Linked DNA regions of Homo sapiens. The protein of the gene in region 1 purifies or fractionates together with the protein of each later gene. This does not show direct contact. Each region holds a gene or a part of one and is shown in the gene's direction. Other genes may lie near its edges.

Region 1 (4,359 bases):
AATACCCATCTCCTGGGAATTGTGGAAACAGCTGGCTAAGCCCATGAGGCTCACCCTGTAGAGCCATTTATTTGAATGGATCAAATCCTATTCCATGGGAAGGGCCTCCAGCCAGTGCAATTCCAAATCCCAATGAGTCCCTAAGAGAGGTGCAGGGCCCTTACCTCTGTAAGAGACCCCTCTGAGATGCCATTAGAGCCTATCCTTAATGAATAGTATTAGAAGCCTCCAAGCTAGAGCAGTCAGGTGGGGGCACTGAGAAATTCTGGACATTGGAACAGACATTATCTCCAGCCAAAAATTTGAGTCAGCATCATAGATGTCTCCAGCCCTTTGTTTTGAACCTGTTTGTACCATGTCAGGGCCAACCTCCTGGCCTCGAGGTAGCAATCACTACTCTTTCCCAGGCTGAATCTTTTATAATTAATCATTAATGATTCACGGCATGCCATGCACTAGCTTCTTTTTGTTTTTTTTTGTTTGTTTGTTTGTTTTTAGACGGAGTTTTGCTCTTGTTGCCCAGGCTAGAGTACAATGGCACTATCTCAGCTCACTGCAACCTCCTCCCGGGTTCAGGCAATTCTCCTGCCTCAGCCTCCCAAGTAGCTGGGATTACAGGCATGCACCACCACACTCGGCTAATTTTGTGTTTTTAGTAGAGATGAGGTTTCACCATGTTGGTCAGGCTGGTCTTGAACTCCTGACCTCAGGTAATCCACCCACCTCAGCCTCCCAAAGTGCTGGGATTACAGGCCACCACGCCTGGCCCATGCACTAGGTTTTTAGTTAGATTCAGTAAGCACACACTGAGCCCTTACTGCCTGCCAGGCACTGCGGATCTAAAGGGGTACGTATCTACCAGCTTGCTGACCCTTGAAGAACTTGCAGTCTAAGAGGGGAGACAAACACCTAAACAGATTATTGCAGAGCAGGGATGAGAGCTTACACCCACAGAGGAGGAGCATCAGCCTGGGGCTCAGGGAGGGCTTCCTGCTAAAAATAATTTCTGAGTTGAATCTTGAGGGGTGAGTAAGAGTTAACCAAGGGCAGAAAATTGGGAAGAGCATTCCAATCAGAAAGAGTGACAAGAGCAAAGCTACTGGTGCAAGAAACAGCACGGTGTGCATGGGAAATAATAAGTAGTTCATTCCTGGAGGATAAAGCAAGATAAAGATATTTGAGGACTAGATGGGGAGTACAGGAAATGTAAGTTGCAGTTCCTGCCCTAAAAGGAACTCATTCTATTTGGGGAAACAAGATATACCCAAATGACATGACATAAAAACATGCAAGATAGAATCTTGATAAGTTCTAAGGTATGTGGGCGTTCAAAAGCTCCTCTAATACAAGGTAGAGAAAACTAGCTTCCTGTGCTGGGGATTCCTCCACAAGTGCTGCTCTTCCCCCACCTCCTGGCAGCCCTAGGGTGCAGAACACACAGGAGACCTCAATCTAATGGCAGCACATGCCTGCCTGGGGCCTGCCCCAAAGGCTCCTGCTAGAGAAGTTGATTTGAAATAGGCTCCAGGTCCCGAGGGAATGCCTTTGTTCAAGCTCACCAAAAAGCCACCCCAAGTCCTCCTACCTTCTCTGACAGAAAGAGGGCTCTAGGAATAGACCACACACACACACACACACACACACACACACACACCCCTTCTGTTCCCACTCACACTTCCACCTGCAGCCCCGCTCATTCCTTCCACTATGGCCACACTTCCTGTACACTCCCTGAAAAGTCAGCGTTTCTCCTGCTTGCCCAGAGGCAGACAAGGGATGCACCAGGGTGGACTGTAGAGCAGCAGCCAACCACATGCATCAGCCCAAACCCAGTAAGCAGTGCCGCTGGGCCTTGTGGCTGCTATTGCACAATCCAGCACCCACGCCACAGGTCACAGAGAATTTGCATCTCACAATGTGCCGCAGCAGGCTTTGGGCCTCCTCTGAGCCTCCCCGCTAGACCCTCCACCTTCAATAGTTCATTCCCAATGCGTGAGCTAAATGTACGCTTTTCCCACCCTGCTGGGCTGCCCACCACGACCTCCATCTCTGAAGCACATTCCCAGGATTCAGGTTCCTGGCTTGTCATCCTTTACAGATATGTTTTGATGAATAATGGGAAATTCATTTCTGAGCAGCCACACCGATGTCAGTGTGGGAGAGACCTAAAGCTTGTTGTCATGGTAATTACTACCACTTGTTGAATGCCTACTATATATAGATGCTGTGCACAGATTTATTTCTTTTAATCTTCATAAAGTCATATTATGTCTTCTAGGAAAGGATGCTGAGGCTTTGAGATGCTTAAATGATGTGCCCAGGGTCTAGAAGGTAATTACCAACCTTCTAACATTTGAACCTACCCTATCCGGTGGGATCCTGTCCCTGTTCTTCCTCTTGCTCTGGAGAAACTCTGGCTTCCCCCACAGCACCTGTGTGGGCTCTCGGGGAGACAACAGGCTCCTCAGCCTGGCCAGTCTTCCTCCAGCTCAGGCCAGGCTGTGGTGGAGGCCAGCCAGCTCAAGGCTTGGTGCTTGTAAGGCCTGGCACAGGTTTACTCCGAGCCCTCCTCTGCACAGCTAAAAGACTTCTGAAAGGCCCCAGTTGTGTCTCTGGGTGAAACTGGTGCCCACACCTAAAGCAAAACAGGAAGACTTTTCCAAATTCATTTTTAGGGCTTTGGAGTTTTGAGAGCAAGAAAGAACCATAGCAATTTCTTCCATCCCCTTCATTTTAAAGATGACGAAATTGAACATAAGCAATTTACCAATGGTCGTACTTAAAGTCAGTTAGTAGCCAAGTCAAGAGTTAAAACCAAGGTCCTGGTCGGGGGCGGTGGCTTATGCCTGTAATCCCAGCTCTTTGGGAGGGCAAGGAGGGCGGATCACGAGGTCAGGAGATTGAGACCATCCTGGCTAACACGATAAAACCCCATCTCTACTAAAAATACAAAAAATTAGCCAGGCATGGTGGCAGGCACCTGTAGTCCCAGCTACTTGGGAGGCTGAGGCAGGAGAATGGCGTGAACCCGGGAAGCGGAGGTTGCAGTGAGCAGAGATCACGCCACTGCACTCCAGCCTGGGTGACACAGGGAGACTCCGTCTCAAAACAAACAAACAAACAAAAAGCAAAAACAAAAACAAACAAACAAAAAGGTCCTCTGACTCCCAGCACACTAGGACGCCTTTGACCCGCATGTTCAAATGAACTCATATATAATGACTTTATTGATTTTGCATTTTTGTGTATTGTCTTCTTGGCTCTCTGAAGTCCTCCACACAGTGGTGCTCAGCTCTCTAGGTCTTCCCTAGCAAGCACTACTATCTGTGGGGATAGGGTGGGTAGGGAGAAGAACCATTTTCATTCTCATTGTTTTTTTTTTCTTTGTTTGTTTGTTTTGAGGTGGAGTCTTGCTCTGTCTCCCAGGCTGGAGCGCAATGGTGCAATCTCGGCTCACTGCAACCTCCACCTCCCTGGTTCAAACGATTCTCCTGCCTCAGCCTCCCAAGTAGCTGGTATTACAGGCGCCTGCCACTGTGCTCAGCTAATTTTTGTATTTTTTAATAGAGACGGGGTTTCACCATGTTGGCCAGGCTGGTCTTGAACTCCTGACCTCAGGTGATCCACCTGCCTTGGCCTCCCAAAGTGCTGGGATTACAGGCATGAGCCATGATGCCCGGCCCATTCTCATTGTTTTAACAAATGCCAAGAGACCCAGAGCTGAGGCTAGGAGGGCCCAGCTACCCTAGCTGCAGCGCCACGCCTTGTTCTACTAGGCTTACTTTCTCCGATGCCCTCAAGGGGTCTTTCTGGGGGAGCCCCTTGGCCCCTGTTGTCCAGTCATGCCTGAATCCCCTCACAAAGGCCTGAATTTAAGTACTGGAGAGGAGAAGAACAAGGATGATTCCAAATGCTTGTTTTCCTTGGGGAAACAAATGGGAGACTCAAAGAGATGCCTGGCACTCCAGGCTGCTATACAGTGCGGAAGTGCTGCCCAGGTGGAGAATCTGATGCCAGTGGAGTTGGCAGGTGTATGAGTTTGCGAGGGCTGCTGCCGTAACAGATTACCACAAACTGGGTGGCTCAAAACAACAGAAACGTCTCCTTTCATGGTTCTGGAGGCCGGATGTCTAAAAGCAGAGTGTCAGCAGGACCTCATTCCCCACTAAGGCTCGAGGGGCGGCTCCATTCCATGTTTCTTTTGGCTCCTGGTGGTTGCCAGCTTCCTTGACTTGTGGCCACATCACTCCAGTCTGCCTCATCTTTGCCACACCTTCTCCTCTGTGTGTCTCTTATAAGGACCTGTGTCATTGGATCAGGACCTACGTTGATAATCCAGGATGATCTCTTCATCTCAAA
Region 2 (4,982 bases), on another chromosome or scaffold:
ATGAAAAGACCTTTCCTCATCAAGTCCACAGAGTGTAAATTTGTTTTTACCTTTTTTTTTTTTTTTTTGAGACGGTGTCTCACTCTGTCACCCAGGCTGGAATGCAGTGGTGCGATTTTGGCTCACTGCAACCTCCACCTCCTGGGTTCAAGTGATTCTCCTGCCTCGGCCTCCGTAGTAGCTGGGATTACAGGCGAAGCGCCACCATGACCGGCTAATTTTTTGTGTTTTTAGAAGAGATGGGGGCTTCACCATATTGACCAAGCTGGTCTCGAACTCCTGACCTCAAGTGATCCGCCTGCCTCAGCCTCCCAAAATGCTGGGATTACAGGCGTGAGCCACTGCACCTGGCCTGTATCATTCTTAAAAATTAAGTTTTAGCGGGGCATGATGGCTCACTGGTAATCCCAGCAGTTTGGGAGGCTGAAGGGGGAGGATTACTTGAGACCAGGAGTTTGAGAACAGCCGGGGCAACATAGCGAGACTCCATCTCTACAAAAAATTTAAAAATTAGCTGGGCGTGGTTGAGTGCACTTGTAGTCCCAGCTACTTGGGAGGCTGAGGCAGGAGGATCAGTTGAGCCCAGGAGGTTGAGGCTGCAGTGAGCCATGATCATGTGATCATGCCACTGCACTCTAGCCTGAGCCACAGAGTAAGACCCTCTCTGTGAAAATAATAATAAGCTGGGCGCGGTGGCTCACGCCTGTAATCCCAGCACTTTGGGAGGCTGAGGTGGGCGGATCAGGAGGTCAGGAGTTCGAGACCAGCCTGGCCAATATGGTGAAACCCCATCTCTACTATAAACAAAAATTAGCCGGGCGTGGTGGCGCGTGCCTGTAGTCCCAGCTACTCAGGAGGCTGAAGCAGGAGAATCGCTTGAACCCGGGAGGCGGAGGTTGCAGTGAGCCGAGATCGCGCCACTGTACTCTAGCCGGGGCAATGGAGTGAGACGCTGTCTCAAAAAAAAAAAAAAAGAAAATAATAATAATAATAATAATAATGTTCAGATGTATTTTTTAAAGTTTTTATTGTTTTTAAAAATAGAGGCACGGTCTTGCTATGTTGCACCACTGCACTCCAGCCCGGGCAACAAAGCCAGACTCCGTCTCAAAAAAAAAAAAAAAAAAGTGTGATACTAAGTCAATCAATTTGAAAATGCGGCTCTAGAGTATTGGAAAACAATCCCTTGACAGCGTTTCCATGAAAACATGGCCCTTGTCTCTGGAAGAGCTTGTGCCCAGAACGGTCCATTATCATGCCCTGGCTCTATTTTCACGCCAACCCTATAGGGTCTCTATGATCTCATTTTATAGATGGACAGACTGAGGCTCACATATAGCAAGCCCAAGGCGGGGACTGAATGTGACGCCAGGTCTGTGGACGTCATGACCTTTATTCTCCACAACCCTCAATGACATCCCTGTGAGATCCAAAACCAGGATGGCAAAACCCACGTTGCAGCAGAGGAAACTGAGGCTAAGGTCTCTTGGGTCCCAAACCAGGTCCTAAGTAGCCAAGTCCGCCTGGTGGCACAGCCCGGGTTTTATACATGGGGAAATTGGGCGGCGCATCTGGCGGAGGTCTCAGTGGTAGGAGGCGCCTGGAGGAAGCGCGGGTTCCTAACCCTAACGCTACCCCTAACATCCCTTCCACGCGCTCCGAGCGCTATGTGCCTTTAAGATCGGTGCGGGGGCGGGGCGTCCTGGGTAGGGCTGCAGGTGACGTCACTCCGGGCCTTGGGACTCGGAGAGCGTCTGGAGGCGGGGCCTGGACTTCACGCCCGGCGCGCTCCTCCCCTTTAAGGCGCGCGGCCGGGCGGGGCCCCTATGACCCCTTTAAGGCGCGGCCAGAGTCCTCCCGCAGAAAAACGACTTAAAGGAGACGCGTGGCGCGATGGCGGCGGCCCCACGCGCGGGCCGGCGGCGCGGGCAGCCGCTCCTGGCGCTGCTGCTTCTGCTGCTGGCGCCACTGCCGCCGGGGGCCCCGCCGGGCGCCGACGCCTACTTCCCCGAGGAGCGCTGGAGCCCGGAGTCGCCCCTGCAGGCGCCGCGCGTGCTCATCGCGCTGTTGGCGCGAAACGCGGCCCACGCGTTGCCCACCACGCTGGGCGCACTCGAGCGGCTGCGGCACCCGCGGGAGCGCACGGCGCTATGGTGAGTCGAGCCCGCTGTCCCCATCAGGCGGGTCACGCGAGCCCCTGCTTGCTGTCCCCATAGGGGTGGGTCCACGCGAGCCCCTGCCCGCTGTCCTCTTCTGGGCGGGTCCGCGCGTGCTTCCTGCTCGCTACCCCCATCGGGACGGTTCTACGCATGCCCCTGCCCGCTGCCCCCATCGGGACGGGTCCACGCGTGCCCCCTGCCTGCTGTCCTCCCATGGGGCCAGACACAGCCCTCCCCACAACACAAGCGGGACCGAGTTCCTCCTGCTGGCTCCTTTGGGGTGGGCTGGGCACCGCTTCTGCCTGCTGGACCCTACTAGGGCAGCTCCGGCCTCACTAACTGGGGCTCTAACTCCCTCTGGGGCACGTACACCTCCAAAGGACGGAGCCCAGAGCCCCCACTGGGGCGTTGCCAGAGGCCACATCTAACAGCAAGCCTTTCTGTGCCGGCTGCTGCCCTTAAGCTTGAACTCAGCCTGGCTCCAGGCCCCAGTCAAACCCCTGCCCTCAGACCGGCGTGGGTGGAGTCCAGGACCAGATGGCCCAGGAGGAAGTGGATGCTTTCTTGGTAGGGAATGGGGCAGAGCTCTGAAGAAACCTTTGACTGGTGACTTCTCACTCCCTGCCTCAGTTTTCTCAAATGGAAAATGGGTCCGGGTGCAGTGGCTCACGCAGTAATCCTAGCAATTTGGGAGGCCAAGGTAAGCGGGTCACTTGAGCTCAGGAGTTCGACACCAGCCTTGCCAACATGGCAAAACCCCGTCTCTAGAAAAAAAATACAAAAATTAGCCAGGTGCGGTGGTGTGTGCCTGTAGTCCCAGCTATTCAGGAGGCTGACGCAGGAGAATCGCTTGAGCCCAGGAGTTCGAGGCTGCAGTGACCTATGATTGCACCACTGCACTCCAGCCTGGGCTACAGAGTAAGACCTGCCTCTAAAAAAAGAAAAAGAAAAGAAAATGAGCGTATTAATATAATTCTCTTTTTGGGTTTGTCTCTGAAGATTATCCAGTTAATGGATGTGGAGCCCTTGGGTCTGGCATGGGCTTGGCTCTCAGTGATTTTATTATCATGATTACTGTCATTGCTGGTGTTATTGTCAACTTAATTTATTGGGCAGAATTAGCTTTTGGCACTACGGTCAAACTAAACTCCCAAATGTCGCTTTTCCTTCCACCTGATTTCTCAGTCTGGATAATCCAAATACACAATTGGTACTTAACAAATGTTTGTTGAATGAATAATTGACTGCAGCCCACTGAAGTGGTGTGGCTCACAGGAGAAGATGAAGGCAGGGTAAGGGATTTATGAGATATACTTTGAGATATACTTTTTTTTTTCTCTCAGACGGAATCTTGCTCTGTCGCCCAGGCTGGAGTACAGTGACACGATCTCAGCTCATTGCAACCTCCGCCTCCGGGTTCAAGTGATTCTCCTGCCTCAGCCTCCCGAGTAGCTTGGGATTACAGGTGCGCACCACCATGCCTGGCTAATTTTTGTATTTTTAATAGAGTCAGGGTTTCACCATTGTGGCCAGGCTTGTGTTGATCTCCTGACCTCATGATCTGCCTGCCTCGGCCTCCCTAAGTGCTGGGATTACAGGCATGAGCCACAGCGCCCTGCTGAGATATACTTTTTTTTTTGATACAGGGTTTTACATCTGTCGCCCAGGCGGGAGTGCAGTGGTGCAATCCTAGCTCACTGCAACTTCCCCCTCCTGGGCTCAAGTGATTCTCCTGCCTCAGCTTCTTGAGTAACTGGGACTACAGGCGTATGCCACTGCGCCCAGCTAATTTTTGTATTTTTTCTAGAGATGGGGTTTTGCCCTATTGGCCAGGCTGGTCTCGAACTCCCGAGCTCAAGTGACCTGCCCACCTCGGCCTCCCAACATATTGGGATTACAGGCGTGAGCCATTGCACCCAGCTGGTTTCTGATATATACATTTCATTTTTTAATATTTTTTATTTATTTATTTTTTGAGACTGAGTCTCGCTCTCGTTGCTGAGGCTGGAGTGCAGTGGCACGATCTCGGCTCACTGCAACCTCCTCCTCCCAGGTTCAAGCGATTCTCCTGCCTCGGCCTCCTGAGTAGCTGGGATTACAGGTGCCCGCCACCACACCCAGCTAATTTTTTGTGTTTTTAGTAGAGATGGGATTTCACCATGTTGGCCAGGCTAGGCTCAAACTCCTGGCCTCAAGTGATTCACCCGCCTCGGCCTCCCAAAGTGCTGGAATTACAAGCGTGAGCCACCATGCCCGGCCTAATTTTTGTATTTTTAGTAGAGATGGGGTTTCGCCATGTTGGCCAGGCTGGTCTCAAACTCCTGACCTCAGGTGATACACCCGCCTCGGCCTCTCAAAGTGCTGGGATGACAGGCGTGAGCCACCGTGCCTGGCCTGATCTATACATTACAAAAATTGCCGTGTGCGGTGGCTCATTCCTGTCATCCCAGCACTTTGGGAGGCTGAGGCAGGTGGATCACCTGAGGTCAGGAGTTCGAGAGCAGCCTGGCCAACATGGCGAAACCCCATCTCTACTAAAAATGCAAAAATTAGCTGGGCATGGTGGTGGGCACCTGTAATCCCAGCTACTCGGGAGGCTGAGGCAGGAGAATTGCTTGGACCTGGTAGGCGGAGATTGCAGTGAACCAAGATTGTGCCACTGCACTCTAGCCTGGGTGACAGAGCAAGACTCTGTCTCAAAAGAAAAAAAAAATTAAGTGACACATATTTGTTAGTGAATGTGGTTTGCAAGATCTTAGATGCTCAGTAATAAAACAGCCAATCACTAATGGGTCTTTCCAAAATCAGCTTGTTTAATCCTTC

Evidence for each region. The genes of interacting proteins can lie anywhere in the genome.
Region 2: the proteins of RCSD1 (region 1) and COLGALT1 fractionate together in Homo sapiens (co-fractionation; one large-scale study listed by BioGRID). This does not show direct contact.

What each region holds. Positions count from the first base shown.
Region 1 is NC_000001.11:167,636,112-167,640,470, forward strand, and holds part of RCSD1 (capZ-interacting protein), read left to right. Parts: intron 1-4,359. UniProt on the Homo sapiens protein: Stress-induced phosphorylation of CAPZIP may regulate the ability of F-actin-capping protein to remodel actin filament assembly.
Region 2 is NC_000019.10:17,553,821-17,558,802, forward strand, and holds the start of COLGALT1 (procollagen galactosyltransferase 1 precursor), read left to right. Parts: upstream 1-1,828; 5' UTR 1,829-1,893; coding exon 1,894-2,153; exon of another isoform or gene 2,154-2,715; coding exon of another isoform or gene 2,716-2,726; intron 2,727-3,606; exon of another isoform or gene 3,607-3,624; intron 3,625-4,982. UniProt on the Homo sapiens protein: Beta-galactosyltransferase that transfers beta-galactose to hydroxylysine residues of type I collagen. By acting on collagen glycosylation, facilitates the formation of collagen triple helix. Also involved in the biosynthesis of collagen type IV.